Regions from separate parts of the Homo sapiens genome. Here region 2 is linked to region 1. Evidence: fine-mapped expression QTL. Tissue or cell type: whole blood. Region 1 holds a variant in brackets; the other region holds the start of a gene. All regions are shown on one strand. Distances are from middle to middle.

What was found. PIP is the estimated chance that this variant, and not a neighbour inherited with it, causes the effect.
Region 2: CC2D2B starts here. The variant in region 1 is fine-mapped to the expression of CC2D2B in whole blood (TOPMed, PIP 0.99).

The regions. Positions count from the first base shown.
Region 1 is chr10:95,866,583-95,869,346 of GRCh38, reverse strand. ENTPD1 (ectonucleoside triphosphate diphosphohydrolase 1) reads right to left here. Exons shown (of 10, transcript NM_001776.6): 10 at 1-2,764. The region is part of intron 3 of ENTPD1-AS1 (ENTPD1 antisense RNA 1); the gene reads left to right. Among named protein-coding and RNA genes, the nearest start is that of CC2D2B, 40 kb to the left of the region's middle. The variant T/C (reference allele first, on the strand shown) is at 1,225.
Region 2 is chr10:95,906,850-95,909,613 of GRCh38, reverse strand. It overlaps CC2D2B (coiled-coil and C2 domain containing 2B), which reads right to left and starts at 1,639. Exons shown (of 35, transcript NM_001349008.3): 1 at 1,557-1,639. All of the region lies in intron 2 of ENTPD1-AS1 (ENTPD1 antisense RNA 1), which reads left to right. RefSeq lists enhancers at 1,323-1,382, 1,423-1,612.

The DNA of each region.
Region 1 (2,764 bases):
ACCCAGGAGGCGGAGGTTGCAGTGAGCCGAGATAGCACCACTGCACTCCAGCCTGGGCAATGGAGTGAGACTCTCTCTCAAAAAAAAAAAAAAAAAAAAAAAAAAGTAATGACTTCTGCTGATCTTTTTTCTCCCCTATAGGTTCATAGAAAAAAAACTCCCACCTTATAAAGGAATCTTTAAAAGGTTCCTCATAAAGGAACAGGGTTAGCAGAACCAAGTTTTGAGTCCTGGGTGAAAATCCAGGGGAGAATGGTAATCAGTGATAACCAATGGCCAATCCAATATTAAAATTAGTTAACAGTGACCAATCTTATTTCACCTACCCCACCCAGAGTGGCCCAAAGCAGATTGCTGGATCTGCCTCTAAACCAACCTTCCTGCCAAAATAATTGGGGTTAGGTTGTGTCTGCTGATTGTCTCCATAATTTGAGATTTTAACAAGTTGAGTTTGGCTCCCAAATACCTTAAAGGATTTTTTTTTTGGCATCTCTGGGGAGGGGGAGATTGGACGTAGGCAACCAAACAGGAATGGAATAAGAAAAGATTTGTGTTCTCTGAAGGAGACTTGTGAAGTCTAATTCCAACTTGCTGAGGGAAAGTGTTTAGAAAAGAAAAAGCAATAGGCTTCAACCAGAAGACATGAGTTGGAGTATCTGCTCTGCCATGTAGTAGTTTGTGTGATCCTCATTTGTAAAATGGAAATACTATTTACACCCTTATGGGTTGTTGTGAGGGTCAGAATAGATTGTGTGCATGACAGTGCTTTGTATACGCAGACAGAAGGAAAAAAGCGGCTGTTATTGGCTCAACTTATTTGACCTTTATTTTCATCATCATCGGCCACTATTTGATGTCAATCTACTATGCTGTGAGCAAACATTAAAATTAGGAAGCCAGGGGTATGGGAACCACTGATTAGCATCATATGCCAGATGTGCTTCCATCCAAAGCACATGAACAGAATGATATTAAATTACAAGCCTATCAGGAACAGACCAGCTTTCTGCCTCCCTTTCTATGAATACCAAGTCCCATGAACCTTGTATTCATGTGGAGTTTTAAGTGCATGCTTGGAAGTTATGAGGAGACAGCCTGGTATGTTCGGGAAAGAAAATAAAGGTTAGGTACATGGTAGGCTTTGGCTCAGCCATTTGGGCAAATGACTTAACCTCTCTGAACCTCAGTTTCTGTTTCTATGAAGTGGGAATTGTAATACCTACC[T/C]TCTTCAGATTGTTGTGAGGATTAAATGAGAAGATGAATGTAATACCCTTGAGCACACAGCGTGGTACACCACAAATGCTCAACCAACAGCAGCGATGACAGTATAGGCAACTACCACAAGAAAGAATTTGAACATGTCCCAATTCGAATTTTGATTCCTAATCAAGATCTAGTGAATTTAACCTAAGTAGCAGAAAAGAAGATTAAGAGTTCCTTTCCACAGCTTTATTAAGTTTTTATATTCACCTGGATGTTGTCAAAAGTGACTTGATCATTCAAGAGATAGGGGACATTTGGCTTCCGGTTTGTGTGAGAGCTTTTCTTTCCCCATCAGCTCAACAGTCAGTCCCCAGATCTAGAGATGGAGAGCTTGGGACAAGGTCAGAATGAAACATCACCAGTCAATCCTGCTCAACAGGTAACTCTTGCAGCAATCCTTAAGGAAAGGGGTGCAGGGTCTCTTCATGTTTCCATGGTAAGGTCTATAGCTGCTGCTTCATGGAATAAGCAAACAAAGCCCATGTTGTGTGACGGGTGGCAACACTTTCAGACTTGGATCCTGCACATTCTGATGTGTAAATTCCACGATAGGGCAAAAGCATGCCACTCCACACTAATGCTGCCCTCTCACTAAATTAAACCTTGGAAAAATAAGATGTGGCTTGGCTTTAAAACTCAGTGAACTATCTTTATGGTACAGTTGGTTTCCATAGCTGTAAACACAAAAGATCTATGGTTTCTGCCTACCCAGGATAGTCTTGTCTCTAGACAATGTATTGATGATGCAAATGTTCTGGAACTAAATAGTGGTGATGGTGGCACAACACTGTGAATGTACTAAATGTCACTGATTTGTACGTATTTAATATGAATTAAATGTTAAAATGGTGAATTATATTTATGTATATTTTACCATAATAAAAATATGCATTGGAAGATGCATTTTTTGTGACCCTGAGTTGTAACTGTATTTTTATTTGTGACATGTATATACCACCTACCTCATAGTAAGCCCTGATGTTTGAATGCATATATTTACATCTGCTTTTTGCAAATCTCAGGTCTGAGTGTTCCACTCTGTAGCATTTGGGTATCACCTAGGAATATGTGATTTATTGACATACCTGCTTTGGGTGGGATTGAGAACTGTATTGACTGCATGAGCACATATATTTCCTTATAAAACTCTTTGGCTTTAGCACATATTTGCCTACTGTAGAAAATTCTCCTACCCACAGAGCAGGCTGGGAATGGAATGTGTGTCTGCCTTCTCCAAAGGCATCATATGGCTTTCTTAATGGATGGCAAACAGGAGAGAGAAAGGGGTTCTTAAAGAGTACAACTGAACCAGTTCCTGAGATTCTTCTTTCAGCCAGCTCAGCCTCCTATCACAGGACTCAAGACTCTCAGTTCTTCTAGACAAAGTCAATATTGTTCTTTTATAAAGCAAAGATTATGAAAGGTGTCAGGTCTTTAAAACCTATACAAGCACAAAGTACAAAGGAGAAAGGTGTAGCTGGGAAAAACTCATGAAAGAGAC
Region 2 (2,764 bases), 40 kb before region 1:
TTCCCCTGGCTCTTGTTAGAAATATTTCTAAATGTATTAATGCACTTTCCTTCCTTAGCAGATCTGAATTCAGACCAAAATCCAATTTTATCTTTATCTCAGTTCATCTATTGTCACATAGTATGATGACACCTTTCTGAACTCTCTTATAGCAATGTTTCCTAAATGATGCCTTCCAGACTTAATTTGAATTAGGATGCTATGTCCAGAATTAAGGTCTCATTCACAGTTATGATGTAATTAAGGCAACAATAGCATTTTGTAAAAATAATCTATTAAATATATAGCACCAGCTACCCTTTATTGTTATTAGGATATGGAAGAAGTGGAATTTAACTTAACAATTCTTTACTTAGTTAAGAGGAATATAGCAGTATTTCACAGTGTTCTACAAAAAACATTATGACTTCCATGTATTGCATTAACTGGCAAGTTTAAAAATTAACTTAACTGTTATCTTGTTTTCCAAAATCAAAACTTAGGAACAAACGGCGTGACAAAAGATTTTCTGATCTGTGAATTTATTTAAGTCTTCGAAAGGCAACAAAACTAAATCACCCACTGCTCTGAGGACCAGTTCCCAAGTCATCATGTCCTGCTCCTGTAGATCAAGAAAGATTTGGGCCCACTTCTCTATCTTGGGACTTCTGGTACATGAAAACTAATGTGGAAACAGGTTACAAAAACTATCATATTATATTTTGAAAATTTACATCTAACACACACCATGCAACGTAGTTTTGCTACTCAAAGGTGAATTACAAGATTTATAAAAATGTATTAATTCTTAGAGCAACCACTGGCCAGGAGGCCCAGAAGCTCTAAACAAGTACTGTAATGTTTTTTATTCAAACCTGAAGATGTATCTCTGTGTCTATACTTATAGCCTCAATTAGAGAGAAAGTCAACCAGGAGGCCCTTTCTGAAAGTGAAGCCAAAAAACTCTCACATCACTTCCCCATCTAAGCCGCAGTGACCACTCTCCAACATTGACCACTCTCCAACATAACCCCTCAACTATAGCTGGATGGAGTTCTTGTTTATTCTCCCTGGCATCTCCAACCTTTAATTTTTACAACTTCCCCGCAAATGGATAGCATTCCGTGTTTCTAAGGCTGATTCAAACTCCACGTCTTTCAGGAAGTTTTTTCTAACTCTGTCTCTTGATCTCCAACAGCATTTGTAGTTCATAATGCGAATTTTTGTTCATTACATTCTACCTTCCAAGTTCATCTTCCTGCTTATCCTAATGTGAAGATCAGGACTAAGGCAAGGTGTTCAGCACACACAGTAGGCACTGAATTAATAATATGCCGACCCGTATTTCTTGCAAATCAAACACTGCTCTCGAGTGATTTTCAATTCTACTCATTCCCAAATTGGCTAACAAACCGGTCGGCCAGGCCCCCGAACTACAAGTCCCAGCGGCCTGCGCGGCCCCGGCTCCGGTTATCCCAGCCCAGCTAGTTCTGCCCATGCAGCAGAGCTCCACAAAAGTGCGGGAATGTCTGACAGGGAAGAATCAGAGAAACCTTCACCAGCAGCCCGACATTCACCTGGACGGACAGTGCACTTTTCTTACGTCTGGGCAGGGAAGGCAGGGCGCACCATCTACCGCAGGCTAGGATGATCACCAACCGCCCCACCGCACCCTGCGCCAGCCCTACGGCGCCCGCGGGCTGCAAGTAGCGGCGACCCAGGAGCATGCGCGCTGCCGCCCCTGGCCTGCCAGGACCCAGAGGGAGCGGAGCACGCGCCTTTGGGAATCTTCGGTGCGCCAAGTCTGTTCGCCGCCGGGGTCTATCACCCCCGCCCCTCGCCTCTGCCCGTGAGCGTGTGAGTTGTAGCGTACCCTGGGGTCTGTTCTGGAGGAGGCCTGAGAGCGGGGTTGCCTGGGGCGTGGGTCTCTCATCCCTCTCGTCCTGGTGAAGAAGAAGAGTATACCCAGCGGGTGAGTACCGGCCGCGAGCTCCCGGCTGAGCGGGCGTCCCCGGGGAGGACGCTGCGGGGCGCCGTTGTGGCAAGAGCGGTCGCCCGCGCAGGGCGTGGAGGCGCGAGGCCGGGGGACGCCAGCCGGCAAGTTGCACGGGTTGCAGCGCCCCGGGACCTACTTTCTCTTTGCCGTCGTCCCTGCCTTGCTAGGAAAAGAGGGGAGCTTTGACTTCAGGTGATTTCCTTTGTGGCTTACAAAAGAGCCCCCTAAATATGCAAGCGGTTCCTTTTATTTCCAGAGCTTGCTGTTAGCGTACTAATGTACTATGTTTAAAGTCTTAAATAGGGCATGCCAGACACGCTCACCCATGTGTCGTCATTCATCGCTTAATAAACAGAGTACGGCTCTCATTGTTTTTCTTTTTCCCATTGCCTCGCTCCGAGTTAAAATAACGAGATAAACTAAACGTGATGCGGTTGGGAACTTGTTCAGGGAAACCGGCTGGGGCGAACTTCGGAAACTTGCTAGTGTAGAGAGCCGCACGGTGGTGGTTTGTATGCTTTCACTCATTCAGGCTTTCCACAGTGTTTAACTGCGTTCTGTGTCAGGCATTATGCCCCAACAGTCGTCTTGTGTAAGACTTCCATGCATTTTTAAGCTTTGCTTTTATTTTCTAAATGTACATGTTAATAGAGAATAAACATTATTGACCTCTTTATTCTGATATTAATTGCCTAAGTTTCGTAGGATTGTCTTTATTTTTTAATAGTATGGTGACCAAAAGTAATACTAGTGTTTAACCTTAGTAAGCAAAATAGAGTCCCAGTGTCT